Linked DNA regions of Homo sapiens: regions 2 and 3 are each linked to region 1. Evidence: fine-mapped expression QTL. A gene starts in region 1. Each other region holds a variant in brackets. All regions are shown on one strand. Distances are between the middles of the regions.

Evidence for each region.
Region 2: its variant is fine-mapped to the expression of CPNE4 in adrenal gland (GTEx, PIP above 0.99).
Region 3: its variant is fine-mapped to the expression of CPNE4 in lung (TOPMed, PIP above 0.99). The same link has a PIP of 0.9 or more in testis.

Annotation. Positions count from the first base shown.
Region 1 is chr3:132,032,141-132,039,406 of GRCh38, forward strand. It overlaps CPNE4 (copine 4), which reads right to left and starts at 2,874. Exons shown (of 16, transcript NM_130808.3): 1 at 2,427-2,874. RefSeq lists an enhancer at 2,454-2,623 and a silencer at 2,999-3,098.
Region 2 is chr3:131,918,109-131,925,374 of GRCh38, forward strand. All of the region lies in intron 1 of CPNE4 (copine 4), which reads right to left. Among named protein-coding and RNA genes, the nearest start is that of MIR5704, 64 kb to the right of the region's middle. The variant A/G (reference allele first, on the strand shown) is at 2,659.
Region 3 is chr3:132,282,268-132,289,533 of GRCh38, forward strand. No RefSeq gene overlaps it. Among named protein-coding and RNA genes, the nearest start is that of ACP3, 32 kb to the right of the region's middle. The variant C/G (reference allele first, on the strand shown) is at 3,026.

The DNA.
Region 1 (7,266 bases):
TTTTAATTTCTTTTTACACTTAAGAAACAACTCAGAGCAACTATTTTCAAAGAAATATTTAGGAATTTTAGTAAAGCAACTATCTCAAACTGGGAAGTCACTGTACCGCATCTGTGCCTTCTCCCAGTCAAATATGCTGGGCCTGTGTCTGGGAGAATAAAAATAAGGTTGACCACTCACAGGAAAGGCATAAGTTTGATGGCCATGGGAGTTTTTACTTGTTAACACATAAGTAGAGGTTTGGTTCAATTATAGGCAATCTCTTCTCACACAATCATACAAAACTGCCCAGGATTAAACATCTACTATTGCTATAGACCAATATATCCTTTTATGTAATGTTAATGGAAAAGTCACCTCATTCTGATGTGTTTTGAGTTTGATCCTCTAAAACCATAAGAATCTTCCCATGAGAGATAGTTGAGAAAATGTTGGCCTTTATTAGTATGCACTATTAACACAGGTGTTCTGACTGCATTTTCCAACCCTCCCTCTATTTTATGCACCTCTCTACATGTGAGAACTTTTGACTAACTCTGAGTCCTGACCTGCCAGAGTGACTTTGTCAGTCTCTCTTTAAAAATGGGCAGGTGAATGAGTTCAGCCTAGAAGCAGCAGCTCGGTAAGGGAAATGAAAATATCAGAAGTTATCTAATCACAGCCATAGCCATGCTGAGCTTCATCTTATCTTTTGGTTAATAAAAAGAAATGGGACCTTCCGAAACTTGAAGGGCATCAAATTAAGTTTTTGCTTGCCTCTGGCTTTTTGGGGGATATGCTATGTGGTTTAACCAGCATATACTAACTACAAAAATTGACATGGATTCAAAACACCTGTGTCATAGGACGGTGGGTGTTTGTTTTTTTGTTTTGTTATAAAGCAGAAAATAAAACACAAAGGCCTTTGAGAACAGGGATTGTTAAGGGAATAGAAGAGTATGGAGAAAAGAACACTTTATTTGAAGTTAAGGTAATTGTGTACGCCTGTGTATGTGTGCGCGCGGGGGCGCGCGAATGAGCAGGATTTAGTTTCATTTAAAGATAACATATTAAAGTATCTTGGACAGCTCAAAAGTGCTGTTCAGGAAACAAAACCAAGTGAGCCAAGAAAAACCAGAACAGTGCTTTTAAAATCCCTGGCAAAGCAGCAAGAGGATGAAGAGTTGGTTTTGCATAGTTTTGAACACAGGGTGTAAAGGTGCTGAGGCATCTTTTCCCACAAGTCACTGAAATCCTGTGAGAGTGTGTGAGTGTGTGTGTGTGTCTGTGTGTGTGTGTGTGTGTGTGTAGAGGGAGAGGTTCTCAGATGTCTCTCTTGCAAAGCTTCCCAGAGCACTCTCGCTTCCCTAGCCCCCTCCCGCCTCACTCTGCTCACCTTTCCCCCCTCCACTTCCCAACCACCCACATCAAGCCCTTCATAGATTTGCGCCCCTTGGATCATCTCTGCCGCCTGTGACTTTCCCTGGAGCCTAGCAGGTTCTGGGGCTGAAAGGCAATCCGCCAAGGCGCCCTGGGGCGCCGTCAGATTTGGAACATAGAATGGGAAATAGGGCCTTAAAGCCCACCTACTCCAAGATGAAGGAGGAGCATTTTTCATCAGGGTTTAGCCTGCTCCTCACCGGATGGTAATCAGCACTCGCTTGACTTGGCGTGGACCACCTCCTAATTATCTCCATTGGATTCAGCCCTAACAGTTCTCGTGTGTCTGTGATACCACGCGGGGTCGTGATCTCCTTACTCAGCTGTGGCTTGGTTTCAGTGGTCCCTCCAGTCCCGTCCCCTGTCCCCGTCCCCCTTTCCTTCTGGCTACTTTATTCCATAGAGGAAGAAGCGCTGAAGGACTACGTTGAATCAAAGCACTTGCAAGCCTATTCATTAGTTTTTAACACTGAGAAGAGGCAACTAAAATATTATTAGAACCTCATTGTAAGAAGTGTGGGGGAGGAGGTTGAGAGGCTGAATCCAACCGCAGCCAGGTCAAGCCATTGGAAGGGACTACAATGTCCCACAGCTTTCTCACTGTCAGAGAGGAAGCTGCAACTTCAGCCAGAACTCCCTTCCCCTCCCCTTCCCCGATTTTGAAAACCGTACCCCTTCTTCCGCCTTCGGGACTTCCCTGACCTATCCCTCACCCGTGCCATGCTGTCCCCTCCCCTCCGCGGTCTTTCTCCCCAACTCCATTCGCCCCACCCCACCTGGGCGAGTTGGGTGGATGTCAGAAGGCGAGAGGTAGGGGATGGAAGTCCCTTCAGATTAAAGACGTTGCTTGCTGCTGCTTTTTAAAACAACAACAGCAATGACAAACGTGCAAAGGTGAGCGAGAACCAGTGCATCTCAAAAGTTGGTCTTGCTACGCAGCAGCTCCAACAGACTTTGCAATCACAGCGCCCCAGGAACACAGGAATGAAGAGTTGGCATTTACTTACCTGGGTGTGCCAATCTCGAAGAGTGGAGAGAGAATTCAGCCCGGGACGAGGTCTGTCCCGCCCCCAGGATGCAAAATCCGGCTTTGAAGTGGAGGTGGTTGGTGTGGTAGTTTTGTACTGATGTAAGGGGCGTCGCACCTCCTTCCCCTCTCGTCCTCCGAGGTCAGTTTAGCAACAGCGGCTGGGAAAGGTGCTGAGAGCAGAGTTCGGTCTCTCCGGAAACCCTGACTCCATTCTCGGTGATGGGGGTGGGGGAAGAGGGTGAAAATGTTGGAGATGTCAGGTCGGCTCTCAGTTAACTCGGAGAGTAAAGAGGAGGGTACTGAGAAAAGAGGGAGGGAGTGGAGTGGAGCGAGGGAGGAAGGAAAGGAGGGTGGCAGAAAGAGAAGGGGACGAGCGGGTGGCGGGGAGATGGCAGCTTCTCACAGAGAGATTTCCACCTTCTGACGAATCCCATGCACCCAGCAACCCGGCAAGAGACTGGTTCCGAAACCTCCGCGCGAGCGCCCCCTGGGGGTTGCTGACGGAGACGAGCATTGCCCCGGGAACCCGAGCTCAGGCCCCGCCCAGGCCTTGGCGGCGGCGCTCTCCGTGGTCCTGCCGCGCCCGCAGTCTGGGCTTTCTGCTCAGCTTTGTCGCTCAACTGAGCTCCTGGGGACACTTGATTTAGATCTCCAAGTGCTTGGTCTCCATCTCCACTCTAGGGTGGAGCGGTCGTATCGCGGCGCGGGTGTGGGGGGAATGGGAGTTACACTTTTTGGCACTCACCAAAGAAAACTTCTTAGATGGGTGCTTAACTGTCACCAAAAATGGTAAAGGTGTTGCTAATCTCTGGATCCTTCGTGTCTACAAAACTGTCTGGCGTATGGCAGGAGCCTGGAAATTATTTTTAGTAAGTAATGCATGAGTAAATTAATGGACAAAGAGTATTTTCTTCATCTCATGATGAGTTTCTGAATACATCTACCTCACAAATAAGATAAAGAAATACTTAGGGAGTACTTATGCTTAAAGATAGATATAAATATGCTGTCTTATGTAAGGGGTGACCACTTCCACATGTTTTAAAGCACTTTAGAGAGAAAGTATGGCCTTCCTATTTCAAACTTATTCAAATTCAGACAAATGAACTTATTCAAATACAGGGCATTGTTTCTGATTATGTCTGCTACCATAGACAAACTAGACAACTAAATTCTCTCTGCACATTGGTATTGTCAGACTCACAAATTGGACTTTGGAATTAATGAAGTAAAGTGAATGACGGTCTCTTTCTGACATTGGGATGGTATAGAGTGTGTTACATCTAACGTGGAGGGGAGATGGAAGGTCTTCCTTCTCACCCTATTAAGGGGCTATCTAACAAAGCCTCTCCAACCTGAAGGTTGGAGGAGATATTAGCCAAAATCTTTTCACTAACCATGAAGTTCTCAATTTCAAAGTCCAGAAAAGGAGAACCAATAGGGTAAGGAGGAAGACCCCCTCTTAATTGTTCTATAGAAGTAGACAGAAATATCTTTGATAAACAAAGGGACAACCTTCTGACAGAACACAAATAACATTTTTCTTCTTTCAGTCACCTCTAAAGCCTTTCTGAAATAGGATAACACTAAACATGGACCCTGGAAAGGACCTCAGGGAGCTTCTCTGTACACTGAAACTACCACAGAAATCCTTGGATTTGCTTTGATTGCAAAAACTTGGGTCACATGGCTATGCATAAGTCAATCGTTGTGACCTTTGGATATGGAATTACACTAATGGGCCAGGACTTCCACAATGTCTAGGAGCATGTGATGTCTTCTATAGCACTCCTGGAGCCAGGATGGAGCCCCACCTGATCTACACACATTGCGAGTGAGACACAGGGACAATTCTCCAAGGGATATTCAGGGTCCTCCTACCAGGAAAGGGGAGACGGATGCTAAGCAGGCAAAACCAGTGTATGACTACTAAATATGAAAATGTTAAGTCCAAAAACATTACTTCCAGGTTTTGTTAAGAGGTAGCCTCAGAGATAAACTCAAAATTTGAATTGGATTGAACTTGCAAAGATGAAGGAAGAAGAAGGAAAAGTCATTGTGCATTTCCTTGCATGTTAATTGTATCCTCTAAAATTTAATTTCTATGAAGGCAAGGGATATGTCTGTTTTGTCGTCTTGTTCATAATTATAACCCCAATGCCTAGAAAGGTGTCTACCACCTTCTACATTTATAAAATTAAAAATAATATAAATACCTTAGGGACCATTCAACATAAACTTCTTATATTACAGGTGAGAGAAAAGGAATTAAGATGTGCTGAGCATGTACTATTTCCAGGCAATCTGTTAGGCACTCTACTTACCATCCCATTTAATTTTTACAACAACCTGCCCAAGAAAGTTTTACTATATCTACAAAAATAAATCCAGGGTGTGGGCGGTTGAAATGACCAGACCAGGGAACACAACTAGTTAATGGGAGGATAGGGGTTGTTCATTGAAGCAGTCTCTAAAGGGGCAGCTAGAATAAGTGAACACATGGACCATAGAAAAGAAGTTATAGAGTCAATGCTCATAGGGAAAAAGAAAAACAACATAGTTATCTTTGGCCCTACATGTTAAAAGCATAGATACACAAACTAAACACAATGCCACAACTTGTGACAAATATGGTTTCCTTTGCCAGCAGGCTTCAGCTCCGTAATTAGAAACAAACAGTTGCCTGCATGCCAGTGCGCAGAAAACGTGCAGCTTTATGCCAGAAACTTGGAATTTTTTTCTGAAGGCATGACACTGAAGGTAAATTCAAAGAAGCTTTTTACAGGGCACATAAAGCAGAATTTACTTCCACCTCTTATATGAAATCAACAGCTCATCTGTACAAATGAAGATTTGTAACCAGCTAATAATCCATGTTTTCAATCACTGCCCCCACAGCAAGTTGCCCGCCAGCCACAGTCCCCTCAACAATTGTAACATCAAAATCCCCTTGTCTCTATCACTCACCTCCTCCCAGCTCTCCTTTTAATGGATTCTGAGCTGCTGGGTTCTACAGCCATGGTCAAATTTATCTAAAGCCAAGCCACAAAGTCACTGTGGCCCTGGTGTTCCCAAGTTGCAAAGGAAGCTTCAGCTCTGGGTAGATTCACTCGCCGGGTTTCTGTTTGATAAGATAAGAGGAGGCATCCGCTCAGTGTCTTATGCCAATATGAAAGGCATCTCACCCATCAGTGTGACAAGTGAAATCCTGGAATGAAGCCAGGGAACAAAAGGGAAGAAATGTGGATTCTTACCAATGCAGTTGATACCATTTTTTAAGGGGAGCAGATGATGAAGGGGAAAAACAGGCAGAGAGTCAGTGCCCTGCATCAAAAACCTTGGATCCTTCCCTGAATGAGTCAGGGTGAGCATTTAGTTTTGAAATGGAATTTCTGTTTCCTTTTATTTTCTTTCTTTTTTTTTTTTTTCTGTAAGAACTACTAAAGGAAACTGTTGTAAATAACAGGATATATTTTTGAGGCTGTGGATCATATAAGAACTTTGAATCTCACCCCAGGGCTATTTATAGCTCAAAAATTTGTTCTTTTTTTCTATTTCAAGTGATTTTTGAGAACTGACTGATATGTCTTCCTCTGGTGTTTCTGTATATGCCTGAGGTGTGATGTATTACTGGAAAGCAGAAAGGAACACTCTAAGAAAGCACTTTTTCTAAGATGCTAAGAGTCAAGGGAAAATGAACATACATGTTGCAAGCTGATGCAGGAATTAAATATTCCACTGTCTGTCATTCCTTTTTATGAGAACCCTATACCACCTGTGGTGCCTCTAACATTGGGTAACAACCTGTGCTACGAAAGGGCAGTTTATACTTCTGTCTACCAATAGGTGGCATCAAAATCTCTAGCTTTTCTTTCCTGTATTTTAAAAACCATAGGCAGAGGGCATTTTCTTTCTGAGATTTTACATTTTATCATGAGTGATGTTATAAAGGCCACTAAATAGCTCTGTATAATTTCAGAGCAGATTTTCCTATTGCTCTATTAATGAGGTCTCTCAGTTGTCCCTCTGAGCCTCAGTTTTCTCATTGTAAAAAGAAAGTATTTGGATTGAACTCCAGCTCCAAGATTCTGCTTTTTAACTACATAATATCTTCCCAGACACACCATTTTTCATGCCTATGATAAACCCATTAGCACTCCATTCCTCTGGGCTTAAGGAATATTAGCAAGCAAATATCCCTTGGTTGCAGAGGCTGTTATCTGCCCAGCCTATATTCATTTTTGTTTGTTTTTCCTTACTAAGAAAAACATAATTTTGTGGAGGGTAGCAACGTGTTTAGCTCCAAACCTTCATTTTCCAGCTTTTCTTGCAGATGGGGTAGTGATGTGATTAAGGTCTAGCCCTGCACTATTTATTGTGGTAGCCACTAGACACATGTATCTATTTAAATTTAAATTTATTAAAATCAAGTAAAATTAAAAGTTGATTTTGTCAGTTCCACAAGTGACATTTTAAATGCTAAACAGTCATAAGTGGCTAGTAGCTAACATCTTGGATAGTTCAGATATAGAACATTTCTATCATTGCAGAAAGTTTTGTTATATAGCACTGATCTAGCCATTGAGATGAGATGTCAGTAGAAGTTATAGGGCAGTTTCTGTGAGAGTTTTCAAAGAGAAGGAGATACTGAATCAGCTGGGATGTACCTTTATCTCTTTACCTCTTCCTTTCTTTCTACCTGAAGGTTACAGTAAGTCAGCCATCATGTGACTATGAAGCAGCAAGCATTTGCCAAGGCAGGTTAAGCAGAAAGATAAAAGGAACCTGGGGCTTTGATATCATAAAGGCAACAACAT
Region 2 (7,266 bases), 110 kb before region 1:
TACAAATGAGAAAATTGAGATTCAGAAAATCTAAATAAATTGCTAGATTGCACAACCCAAAAATGGAGGAAGCAGAATTCAGTCAGATTTTTTAAACTCAAAAGTGCAGGATTTTGTGTATAATGTTATTCTTCCTCCCCTTACATACCTCAAGATCTAGGTTCATTTTACAGTTCAGTTTGAGTCCCTTAATGCTGGAAGTCCCAGAATGTGATATCACGCTCATTTAGACACAAAATATTTATTTAATACTTCGAGTATGTGCTGAGAACCATGGTAGGTACTGGCAGATACAAAGATGAAAAGACAAGGTTTCTATCTTCATGGAGTTTCCAGGCTGATGGAGAAATGAACAGGCAAACAAATATTTAGAAAAGATTAAGTTTGCTTGTTCTCTGCCATATTTCCATTAAAATAGCCATAGACAGACTCAGAAGCTGACAATCATACCGGAAAGGAAAAAACAAATAACAAATAAGCAAAAAAAACCACACGTGGAGTTTCCTCTGGCTGTTTTCTACAGAGCTGTGTGCTAGGGAACTGTTATTCTATGAGGTGCTAATAGATAATCTTAAAAGGAACAATGGTAGACTTTATAACATAAAACAGTTTTTTTGTAACAGGACATTTTAGAGCCATTACTATGTTAATTTGCACTGTGAATCTCCAAAAAGGAGATATGGTGTATAATATTTCCCAAAATTATTTAATCACAAAAACACATTAGAAGACACATGAAACACATTAGAAGACAAATGATTAACAGAGAAGAAAAAGCATTTTTAAAATGCTAGAGGCTAAAGAATAACAGGTAGAGGCATATTGCATTTGGGAATATTTTATTTACTATGAAAAGTGTTGTAGGGAGCCGAAGTGAGAATGCCCAGGAAACAGTGCAGTGTAGGAGGTGCTGTCTTTCATGTACTACACTGGGTGCTGAGCTTGTGGTTAAGTCAGAGTTCCAGCTCTAGCCTGGAAGGTCTACTCTAAATAAATGCCTGCTGGATTCAGCAACTTAAGTCAGGTATATCAAGGTGACCTTCAGATAGTCAACTGAGAAGTAGCAAATGCTAGCACTAAGTGAATAGTGAAGAGGATTGATGAGACTCCACTTAATCTGTCCACTGGTAAATGCCAGCTGGATAGATTTCTTTCCAATCCTGAATGAGTAAATTAGAAATAACAACAGCAACATGCAGCCTAAGAAAAGGATGGGGAATAACTAGATCGTGGTCAATTCATAAGATGGAATGCCATATAGCAATGAAAATGGAGGACAGTTTGATACACGTGCCAATATGGATAAATCTAGACATAATGTTAAACAAAATAGGCTAAATACAAAACAGTACATGCTGTATGATCCCAATTTTGTGAAGTTGAAAACCAGGCCAAATGATAAAGGCAGAACAATGGTTACCTTTTGTGAATGCAATGATGGGAGGGATACAAGAAGGCTTCTGGAGTGCAGAAATAAACTACATCTTGATTTAGGAGGGTTTGCTTTGTAAAATTCACCCAGCTGTATATTTACAATGTGTGCACTATTCTGTATGTTTGTTGTACTCAGATAAAATTTTACTTAAAAAGTAAATAATAGGTGGCAGAAATAGCGTCAACCTATATAATATGTTATTGATCATGAAGAGGTAAAATTCTCTTACTAAAGGACCAACACCCTTTTAGATTATCTTTAACATCGAACTAGGTGATACTTATAAAGAAAACTATAATAAGCAAGTGAATCAGTGAATATATGAATTTTTTAAAATAGACAAAATTTAATTAAAAGAAAGCAGTAATAGAGATAAGGCAAAAGCTAAGGAAACAAACCTCAAATGAGTCAGAGTCACTTCTCTCATTCTCCCCAGCCTGGATCCATTGTAATTTATTCCTCATTGCAGTCAGCAGGTGTGAGTTGCTTAGGGATGTTTGGCAAATTGTTAAACTCAAATCTGATCAGGTCACTCCGCTGCCCAACATCCTTCTGTGGATTCATAAATGCTGCAGGCCAAAGCCTACATTTCTTAGCCTAGAATCACTGATTTTTCCTACCTTTATTGATCAGGCCCACTATTCTCCAGACACTGTAAATTGCTCTATTCTCATTTTCCTTCTCGTACTTTCAAGTCCTAGAAGGCCTATGGAATTATATGTAGATTTATTAACATGAAAACATTTTTACTCGTTTATTTCTCTTCCTGGCCCAATTTTAATCCCTTGACAAAATTTTCACGACCTCCCCCTTACCTTTGTTAGTCACTCCTTAATTTGTGTTCCTACAGTTCTGGTTTAGCTTTCTCTCACACTAATTATCACTTACATGCTATAGCTATTAGTTTACATGTCTGCAAAGTCCTAGTGGCTAAGGATCAAGGACTGTTTGACAAATATTCAAGGCAGGACAGACTGGAAGTGGAGCCTCCTAAATCAACTGATGACAGATATCTTGGGTGTGGGGGTATTTTAAAGTCAGTGGTTATTATTTTGAAATTTTCTATAATAAAAACATTTTAAATACAAAAAAAAAAATCAGTGGCTTCAGATGCTGATAAGAAAAAAAATCTCCGGAACCAGGAACTAGGCCCTTAAAATGTCAGTTGACCTAGAAATATAACAAATATGATCTATGGTGTCATCTCAGAACCAAATGTTCTG[A/G]AACAAATGTTCATCATTTGTTTGTCAAATCTCAGAACCAAATGTTCATGGGTGTAAGACTCCAAGCATTTCATCTAGAAGGGCACTGCTCCTCGATTCTCCTTCCTCCCTCTCCGCAAATTGAGCTTGTCACTGATACTGCCTCAAAGACAGATTTACATGGTAAATGGCTGAAGCTAAAGAAGATGTCTGATGGTCTGGTATCCTTACAGTGGTATGGCATAACCAGAAGTTAAGCTGTTGAGCAGAACAAAGGCCTCCTGTCCACACCTGATGGGCTGACAACATTGCTCCCACACAGTTGACACTTACTGGGTGGCACCAAAGGGTGGGTGACAAGAGTGACAACTTTGCCTCTGCATCTCAGAAACTCACTTCCCCCAAGAAGAAATGATGTCACTTCTGGGCAAAAAGCACCAAACTATTCCTACTTCCACCACCAACTGGATTAGAACACCAGAGTACGTTCTTTAACTCTCAGGTCTCTCAGACTCCAGTCTTAGTGTTTGTCTATTTCACTGGAGGTGAACAGTCCAAGTAGCAAATAAGTTTCACAGATAACTGGAAAGAGATGTTCATAGTCATAGATACTCTCTCTTTATCCCTAAGACCCCTAAAATTCAACTTATTGATTACCTAGCGCCTACCATATGCCCAATACTTGATCGTGTGCCATGAGGAGCTCTGAAATAACAAAACGTGGTCACTGCCTTTGAAAAACTTTCAGAGTGATCAAGTACATGAAATATTTATTCAAGGAAGGAACTAGAGTATGATATGTAAATGTATAGGCTTTTTTAATCAGATATCCTGAGTTCATTTTCTACCTCCATGGTTTACTAACCATAATGATAGGCAAGGTGTACTTTGGTTTCCTCATCTGCAGAATAGAACTAATAACAGGATTCACCTTAGCACTGTTGTGAGGATTCAGTGAGCAACAATGCAGATATAGAGCATAGAGTAAGTGCTAAACAATCATTATGTTACTAGGGTTAATATAAAAGAGAGTTCTGCAAGTAGATACATGATGAATCGTCAAAGTAATTAGCAAAGACCAAGTCAGTGATCACAAAGCCCAGAGAAGATAGACATGCTTTGGTCCAAACTAGAGAGAAGAGAGAAGAGAGGTAATATTTATCAAGCAGGCTCTTTTTGATATAATTTCAACTTTTATTTTAGATTCAGGGGGCACATGTGCAGGTCTGTTACCGGGGCATATTGTATGATGCTAAGGTTCGGAGTGTGATGGATCTCATCACCCACCCACATTCTGAGCATAGTACTTAATAGTCAGTTATTCAACCCTTGCCCCCAACTAGTAGTCTCCAGTTTCTATTGTTGCCATCTTTACGTACATGAGTACCCAGTGTTTACCTTCCATTTACAAGTGAGAACATGTGGTATAAGGTTTTCTGTTCCTACATTAATTCACTCAGGATAATGGCCTCCAGCTGCATTCATGTTGCTACAAAGGATATGATTTTGTTCTTTTATATGGCTGTGTAGTATTCCATGGTGTATATGTACCACACTTTCTTTATCCAATCCGCTGTTGATGGGCACCTAGGTTGATTCCATGCCTTCGCTATTGTGAAGAACACAAGCAGCCTTCTTCATGCCAGAACTGGTTTAGTGGCTTTACACAGAATCATCACTACCTCATCCATAAACTAAGAGAGACAGGTCTTAAGCTAAAGCCAAGAGCCTGATCTAAATTTGGAGAGGCTAAGAAAAGAAGACAGGAAATGCCCATCTGTATGACCAGTTATCAAAGAATGGTGAAAACATGGAAACAGCATGCTGCATCTGGAGGGCATGAGATGCTCAAATGGATGAGTATCATTTGGGTGCTACATAACATATGGTTGAAAGTGCTTTGGAAATTCACGGGCATTAATTTGTTAAACATTCTCTAGTTGTGACATAACTTCTCTGTTCCTCTGTTTTCTTATTCTAAAAAGAAAGATAGTAATAGCTACCTCCCAAGACTATTGTGAGAATTAGAGGAGAGAATAGACATAAAAGAAGCAAGCATAATAACAAATATAGTGTATCCTCTAAAAGTGTTATGTCTGTTTCTATGTCTCCTGTCCTGTGGTCTAGAATATATTAATAGCAAATGCCCAAGTGCCCACACTTAAAGCTCAGATAATTTGAAAGAACTATGATTTAAAGATAAATAATTATTATAGATCAAGACTGTAAATTAAAATGGTTCATGTTAAAAGTTGTTTGTATATTTTGGTTTGGGCCAAAACCTTTAAAACAAATAGGTTTAATTATAAGTTGGACCAGTTCATTGAACATGTGGGACTCTTTGGCAAGTTCTGTAAAGAAATTAGCTCATGGGAGGTTTAAAAATGAATTAACTTTATTTTTACTTGAAAGTCAGAGTTTAGTTCAATGAAAAAGCCTGCTACAAATAACTTTTGCTTTATCGTAGTCCTCTTTTGTGCTGATAGTATTACCAAAGAAACAGAGGCAAAAATGTGTGTTTGTGTGTATGTATGTATAAAATATTGTCACCAAACATTCTATCTGCTCCCTCAGGACTCTTGCACTGTGCAGAGAGATCTCACTAGTTCTGAGAATGTGGAGCAGGGACTATAAGGCCTGTGAGAGGCAGGGGATGTGCAGAAAATCCAACAGAACTGGCTGGGCGCAGTGGCTCACGCCTGTATTTCCAGCACTTTGGGAGGCCAAGGTGGGTGGGTCACTTGAGGTCAGGAGTTTGAGACCAGCCTGGCCAATATGGTGAAATCCTGTCTCTACTAAAAATACAAAAATTAGCTGGGCATGGTGATGCATGCCTATAGTACCACCTACTTGGGAGGCCAAGGCAGGAGAATCACTTGAGCCTGAGAGGTGGAGGCTGCAGTGAGCCGAGATTATGCCACTGCATTCCAGCCTGGGTGACAGAGCTAGACTCCGTCTCAAAAAAAAAAAAAAAAAAAAAAAAATTAAAAAAAAATAGAAAAAAAAATCCAACAGAACCAAAGAGGGGTCTGGGGTAAAAGATGCCTCATGTGGGCTAGTGGCTCATGTCAGCTAAGCCCCAGGCCCTAAGTAAAATGACTCCCATACCACCCCAAGGTTTTCTTTCTAATCCTCCTCTCTCCACCAAAAGTAAGACCCAGAATGAGAGACTAAAGGGACCAAGGGGCCAGTGGCTGCCTTATTCTTCTCTGAATCCAAAAGACCAAAGGGACCCTCCTGACTCTTACGTGGCCCAGCTTAATTCAACAGAACAGGAGACTCAAGAGAGATTTTGGTCAGTGGTTCACCTTGTGATAGTGGCTACTTGCAGGGTCTTCCAGACATTACGTGTCCCCTGGGGACTCATCAAGGACAGTGAAAGAACAAAAGTCCTGTACTCTTCTCATCAGAAGTATAGCTAACGATAGCCACATGACATATCTTGTCTCCCTTACAGCTGCTAAGTCCTTATTTGTTTCCTTCCCTGGATAGGTATTCATCTTCATCCCCCATCCCAACTTCCAACCTTATCAGTGAAGAAGGAGTGGGAGGGATAAGGCAAGAGAAGCAGAAACTGAGTCATACCACTCAATTCAGCCGTGAACTTAGCTCAAGCACTTCACCAAATATCATAGACATCATCATAGAAATGATTTAATGTAAATCACAAAAATTACCAAACAGGAGAGTGAAAGGATCTAGAATGTAAAGAAAATACTAAATTATCTTGAAATGTGTATAGCAGTGGTTCCAAAACTTTGCTGCACCCAGGAATCACTTGGAGATCTTTTAAAAAAAATGCTGGCACCTGTGTTTTATCTCAGATATTCTAATTTAAATAGAGTAAGGCTTGAATGTTGATATTTTTAAAAATTCCTTAGGCTATTCTAATATGCATCAAAATTTGAAAACCACTAGTATAGAGGTGTGTCTAGACCAGTAATAGTATTTTCAGTCCCTAGAAAGGATGTAATAGAAACAATGGTGACATAAACTATACTTTTTGGCTATAAAGGAAATTAAACCCCTAAACTAATCAGTGTAAACGTGAGTGTTATCAACCAGCTGATGGAATGACTTGGTGACTTATATGTCCCTGGGGCTCAAACAGCAGGATCACAAATGCAACATGCTCTCTGTTCTCCTTCAGCTCCCACCTCTTCTTTGGTTTTTCCAAATGGTACTGTAACCTTGTTAGTAGCAACCTTGAAGCACAGCTTAAGTCAGGACAGATCCTGTTTTTCAGGCACAAGCACTGATTGCAAGATTTTTCTCTTCACATTGAATTTTTCTGTGAATTCATCTTCATAAAGAAGTTTCACTCTCAAAACCTGTGGATTCCTTCCTCTCGTCATTTTGAGATTGCTAAAAGTCTCTCTCTCTCTCTGATTCTCTCTCTCTTGTTCTCATATTCTCTCTCTCTCTCTCTCTCTCATAATTTTGTACTTTCCTTTTGCTTTGGATGCCCTTCTCTTCCCCCTTGCACTCTACACACACACAAACCCACACAACATACCACATTTCAGCTCAAACATCTGGGTGGCCAAGGAGCCAGAGCCGCCCAGAGTCATTCCTAGGCTGAGTTGGCTGTCCCACCTCAATGCTCTCCTAACACCCTGGGATCACCGT
Region 3 (7,266 bases), 250 kb after region 1:
AAATGACAGCAAAAGAGATGGACAAAACCAAGGACACAAAATACTACAAAGAAACTGAGAAAGTGATCAAATGGTTACCCTTTTAAAAACACTAAATTCAGACAATTTCACAGAGGGCTTCAATCAACTTCGGTCAAATCTACAAGGAACAAAGCTTGCCAGTGTTATTAAAATAGTTCCAAAGCATAAGGGAAAAAGGCTATTCAATCAGTATTTACAAAACCAGTATAACTTTGACACCAAAATCTGAAAATAATAACACAGAAAACTATAGACCAATATTTTATGAACACTATTTAAAAATCCAAAATAAAATAATGGAAAAAGAAAACATCTATTAAAAAAAATGCAAAATGATCAAGGATTCAATGAAGAAATTTAAAAATTCAACATATTAAAAGATCAAAGGAATGTCAACCTAAAGGAAAAAATTGAGGCCAACTTAACGTAAGTAGAGATTTTATTTGGACCAAGTTTGAAGACTGCAACTTGTGAACATAGATTTAAGTTGCCCTGAATATATGCTCTGATTAGCTACAGTTACAAGTAGGTTTCTAAAGAAAAAGAAGAAGCAGTTCCTAAGTTGCTTACCAAGTATTTTATATTAAAATCACATAAGCTACTGATAGGCTATACATTGTTCTTCATATCAAAAATTCCAGGAACATGAAAGTAATGGGTGAGGCAGGTAGTCAGGAACAAAATGCCTTCCTTTTTTTTTTTTTTCCCCCACTTTTTAAAAGGCAAGGTCTTGCTATATTGCCCAGGCTGGTCTCCAACTCCTGGGCTCAAGTGATCCTCTTCTGCCTCAGTCTCCAGAGTAGCTGAGACTATAGGCATACACCACCATGCTTGGCTAATTTAAAAAAAAAAAAATTTAGGAACAGGGTCTTGCTATGTTGCCCAGGCTGGCCTCCAAATCTTGGGCTCAATCAATCCTCCTGGCTTGACCTACCAAAGCGCCAGTATTATGGGCATGAGCTGATGTGCCCACCTCTGTACTCTTTATTTATCATCATACAAAATTAATACTTGAATACACACACAACTTCAAATCTCCTCCATCCCCCTCCCAGTTTTCAGCTCCCTTTCTTAGCTAATTTTTCCCAAAGAGTTCTTGGTGGTTACTACTTTTACATCTTCAGCTCCCACTCCTTTTTCAATCAGTTGTGATTGTACTTCCATCTCCACCACTCCACAGGCACTGTTCCCATCAGACTCAACACGACCTCATCTTGCCAAATCCAGTGGTCACTTCTCTGTCTCTGTCTTTCTTCAGCAAACACTCAGGGCTTTCAAAAAAGCTGACCACTTCCTCATTGAAATACTCTCTCCACCAAGCTTCTGCAACACTACACTCTCCTGTTTCCCTTCTAAGTTCTGCCTTCATGTTTTCAGGCCCCTCCTCCTCTGTTTCAGCTCTAAATACCAGAGGACCAGAGAGCTGTGTTCCTGTTCCTTTTCTTTGTAATTTTTAAGTCATGTTACCAAACCAAACCAGGGTCTGCTCACTCAGTGCAGTAAAGCCAAACATCTACACCAAGGTTTTGCAGCAGGGGGGAAAAGAAGGCATTTATCTGCAGGGCACCAAGCAAGGAGAATCAGGCAGCTCACACTGTAAGAGCCAACCTTCGCAATAGCTTACAAGCAAGAGTTTTTAAAAGCAGGGATAAATTTCAGGGAAGTAGAAGTTACAGGCAGAATTTTAAGGCATATGTGGAGGTTATATATTGATTTGGCCTAAAAAGACAGTATATATTGAAGCAGGAACTTACAGGTCATTGGTGGATTCGAGGATTTTCTGATTCGCAATTGGTTAAGGAAGGGAAACTTTGTCTAAAAACTTGGGATCAGCAGAAAGGAATGTTAGGTCTGGCCCATGGGTATGACGTCCTTTAGGCTCCTAAGGAAGAAGTTTAGAAAAAAGAACGGCAGTCAGAGTTCAGTTCTCAATCGCCCCTTATCTGAGGTCTACATGCCAGTGGATCCATTTGGCTGGGGTCTGTGTTTCTGAAAAGTAGCTCAGGGACATATGTTGAGATGTTGTCTTTAGTTTCTATAGGGAACCAAACATCTCAGGACTCTAACTACCTTGGCTATTGTTTTCAGCTACTATTATCTTCTTGCTTATCAAGTTGCTTATTTACTTCTCAGGGCTAGTGAGGCGGCTAGTTCACTGCCTAGAATTTCCCCGGAAGGAACTCAATATTTTCCTCTATTTCCATGCTTGGCAAGGGGGGGAGGGGGGCCCTAAGAGGGATCCCTGCTCCGTTTCTGTCATGTGACCTTAGACGAGCAACTTAATCTTTCTGAGCCTTAATTTCCTCAACTATAAAATGAGAGTTAATAATAGTACCTTTCTCATATAATTATATCAAAGTCAAAATAAACATGTAGAGATGAATCCATAAATTTAATATTTTATTTGGGAAGAAAGAATTGCAATTTGGGCCATACATACAGACCTGGTGGTCTTCGGGTATGTCCGAATAGCAAAGAACGGCTTAGCAGTTTTGAAACGAGAAAAGTTCCCTTATTCCCCTCGCAGGGCGTGTGACGGGGGTGTGGCGCGCTTCTTCAGTGCCCCGCTGCTCACACCTCTAGGGGGAGCATACAGACAGACGGTCGGGTTGTGAGGCTCCGACCCCATAGCAGTGTCTAGGGGTTAATGTTTACAGCTGAAGCCCCAGTGGGCCTGTGTTACAGGGTGCTCTTTCAGTTTAGCCGTCCGTAGGCGGCTTGTGCTAGTCAGCTCAATCAGACACCCTGCCTTATCGCAGGGACAGAGGGCTTTCTGTATCATGGGGTTTCTTGCCCTGGTGTACCAGAAGAATCAGATCACACGTAGGCTTGGAGAATGAGTGCAAGGTTTATTGAGTGGAAGTAGCTCTCAGTAGATGGGGGAGCCAGAAGGGAGATGGAATGGAAGGTTGCTTTCCCCTGGAGCCAGGCCGCCCAGCAGCGGGGCTTACCTTATACCGCCCTGGCCAAAGTCCGTGTCCTTCCGCGGGTTGATGGCCTGCCG[C/G]CCTGCTGGCCTACCGGCGTCTGTCAGTATGTTCTTAGGCCAGTGCGTTCCTCTCAACGGCTAGGTGCTTGTGTCTTTTTCCACTGCTGTGATCCTCTCAATGTCCAGCCGCTGGTGTGTCTGCCCACTAGGGTCTCAGGGTTTTTATAGGCACAGGATGGGGGGATGGGGGCATGGTGGGCCAGGGTGGTCTTGGGAAATGTAACATTTGGACCTGAAAACAAATGCCTGTCCTCACCTAGGTCCGTGGGCACAGGCCTGGGGGTGGAGCCCTCGCCAGGGACCCGCCCTTCTCCGCCCAGCACTTCCCTGCCCTATTCCGATATCAGTTTTATAAAAAAGGAGAAATGTTATGTATTCTTCTTTGAGAAAGTTCATTGGCATAAGAAAGAATTTAGGGAGTCAGAAAGCTTCAACTGGTGAATGGTGGCTGTGGGCACAATTAGTGCTAGCCTTTGCAGCACGTTATCTCAGAAGATGAGATAAAACTGGTTTCAGGTTACAACAAGCAGTTTGGGCTTGCAGAGAATTACATTCTTTCAGCAATGTTGTACCCTGCGTGCTTGTTCCCCCTGGCTTCTCAACTCTGTTTTAGTTGTGAGTGACAAGAATGACCCAATTCTTATGATCAACTTTCATGATTGTTATGAGAATTAAACGAATTAACACCTGTAAAGCATTTGAAACAGAACCAGCCAGGTAATGAGTCAGTGCTTCTCAAATTTTAAGGCATATTAGAATCACTTGTGGCTTTTAAAAATCTTGATATCCAGCCCATATACCATAGCAATTAAATTAAAATCTCCAAAAAATTCTCTAATAACTAATTAGGCACAGGGTTTTATTGTTGTTATTTTGTTTTGAGACAGGCTCTTGCCCTATCAGCCAGGCTGGAGTGCAGTGGCATTGTCAGAGGCCTTTGAACCAGAGCAACTCCATCTTGAAAAGGGGCTGGGTAAAATAAGGCTGAGACCTACTGGGCTGCGTTCCCAGGAGATTAGGCATTCTAAGTCACAGGATCAGATAAAAGGTTGGCACAAAGTACAGGTCACAAAGACATGTACATTAATTATATGCACTAACTATAATGCATTATCATGCTAAAAGATATGCCCAGCAGTGCCATGACAGTCTATAAATGCCATGGCAATTTCAAGAAGTTACCCTATATGGTCTAAAAAGGGGAGGAATTGTCAGTTCTAGGAATTGCCCACCCCTTTTCTGGAAAACTCATGAATAATTCGCCCCTCGTTTAGCATATAATCAATAAACATAAAAATCGGCAACCAGCAGCCCTTGGGGCTGCTGTGCCTATGGAGTAGCCATTCTTTTGCTTCTTTACTTTCTCAATAAACTTGTTTTCACTTTATGGATATGCCTCAAATTCTTGCGTGAGATCCAAGAACAGCACAATCATGGCTCACTGCAGCCATCTTGGGTTCAAGCCATCCTCCCACCTCAGCCTCCTGAGTAGCTGGGACTATAGATAGGGGAAAGTCACCACACCCAGCTACCTTTGTTTATTTTTTGTAGAGATGGGGCTTCCACCATGTTGCCCAGGCTGATCTTGAACTTCTGGGCTGAAGCTATCCTCACACCTCAGCCTTCCTAAGTGCTAACATTACAGGCATGAGCTACTGCACGCAGCCTATTTTTTTAATTCTAAGGTAACTTCAGTGTGAGGCTAAGGTTGAGAACCAGGATAGTAAGAGATATAAAAGTATGTCTTAAATGAATAAGATAAACCTGTGTCTCTCTGAAGCTTCATCATCTGTGTCTGACACTTTTGTTGCCATTCACCCAATTTCTGAAGCCCAATGCCTAGGAGTGCCCCTTGATTCTCCCGTTAGCCTTAAATAATGAGGACCAGAAAAATTAAGTATAGAGTTTATAGGAGTCCAAAGCTTGAGGATGGCCACATGGGGGCATAGATTCAAGTTGCCATAAATATACACCCTGATTAGTAGCAGTTACTAGTTGAAGTTTTAAGGAGTAAAAGAAGAGGCAGTTCCTAAGTTGTTTACCAAGAATTTACATTAAAATAACATAAGCTAATGATTGGCTATATATTGTTCTTTGTATCACAAAAACAGGAAGAAAATGGATGTAGCAGCTAGTCAAGAACAAAATACCTTTAAACAATTGTCCCAGACATAGCGGAGAAGGTGACTGAAGTCCCATACTCATGTTTCTCTGAGCCTGATAAATTCTGCATATCTCACATAGCTCAGACTGCTCTGAGCTATTTTCCTTTTTTCCTTTTCTCACCCTTCTCCCTCACATCTCATATCCAATACTAGTATGTATTTTTCTCGTCCATTCACTTCTTTTGACTTCCCCAAATCCACCCTGATCCAAGCTACAATCATCTGTTTCCTGGGCCACTACAGTAGCCTCCTGGCTGTTCTCATTCCCTTTTTTGCTTCTCCATAATTCATTCTTCACAAGCAGCCACAGAATTTTTAATGCATATCACTCCCCTGATTAGAACTCCCCATTTGGCTTCCCATTGCATTTTGAATAAATCCAAACTCCTCACCATGGCCTCAACAAGATCCTGGGTGATTCAACACCTTCCTACCTCTCTGACCTTGTCTGCTCCTGCCCTTTCCCATTTTTACAATTCTTCAGTCACTCTGGCCTTTTTTCTTTCCTCTGAGACCACAATCTCACTCCCTGCCTCAGGGTTTTTACACTTCCTGGGATGCTCTGATGGCTCTCCCCTTTCCTGCATTCAAGTCTCACCTCAAATGTCACCTCATAGAAACCCTCTCTGACCACTCATCTAAAGTATCCCCCACCTCAAGTCACTCACAGTCATGTCACCTTATTTTATTGTCTTCACTGTAGTTCTCACTGTTACAGGACCAATGGGTTTGTATGTCCGCTGTGCAGTATCAGACTGATAGGCTGAGACAACAGGGTTTGCAGCAGAGAAAGAGTTTAATGATTGCAGAGTGGTCAAGTGAAAAGATAGGAGGAGACTCAAATCCATCTCCCCAAGATGTTCTGCGCTGGGGTTTTTAAGGGGATCATGGAGGGCAAGGGCCTAGAAAATTGAGGTCATTAATTGGTCAGGTAAGCGTAATGAAATAATCAGGATGTGGAAATTGCATTCTTTGTTAAGTCAGCTTTTCATGGGGCCTCAGTGAGGTCCCTCAGACCAGTTGACATCAATAGTTTCACTGGTATGCAGGACCTGAAAGAATATCTCAAATGGAAAACAACATTTCACAATGTTTAAGTTGTTATCTACAGAACAGTTAAGTGGTGACAGGTCTGTGTGATTCTGGGGTAACAGGCAGTGAATAACTCTTAGTAGGCAGGTCAGAGAGTAAGCTGACCTCATGATTAATGGTGAATGTGCTGCGATCTTGCTTTATTTTTATTTCTCCCCCTCTTTTCTACTCTGATTAACTTTCTGAAGTCTATAGGGATGGTTTCATCATTATCTGAAATTATCCTGTTTATTTATTTGGTTACTCGTTTACTATCTCTCTCTGCTAAAATATATTTCATTTTAAAAAGAAACTTGTCTATTTTGTTCACTTCAGCATTGTAAGAACCTTGAACAGTGCCCGACACATATAGGCACTCCATAAATATTTTTTTGGATGAATGAATATGAGGCAATAGGCATGGAAATAAAAACCAGGTTTTTTCAACTGAAATTGAAGGAGAAGAGCTCTTTCTTCTTAGGTGAAGCTTAGAGCAGCCTTGGCCCTAGCTTCAATTGGAAAGATACATAGTTTACAAAATTGAAGCCAAACAGGGAGCAAAGAAGAATGGAATAGATGAACGTCAGTGGCAGTTTTATTCCAAGTTCCCACTGATCTTTTCCCTTTCTTTTGTTCAGTAACATGAAGCAAAAAATTATTTTCCTTGCCTAAAATGAATCAGATTAGATTAGATTTCTGTTACTTGCCTCCAAAGGAATCCTGAATACTATAGTGGACAACAGGCTTCAAAGAAAGTTCCAACATTGGAGGCTGAGAAGGGGACTCTGGTCAGGAGCCCATTACCTAGACTGAGACCCCACTGTTCCTCCCATCAATGCCAAGCCAAGAATATAAAAAATGCCCTTCACAGAAACAACCAGGGAGGTGTGATCCTCAGATATGCTTTCAAAAACAAACTTGCCCATAAATTCCAAGGAGAGCAGTTAGCTGACATCCTCCAGCTGCAGTGCCTTTGGGATCTACTCTAGTGTTTGACCTGAGGCCACATTCTTTTCTGGTAGC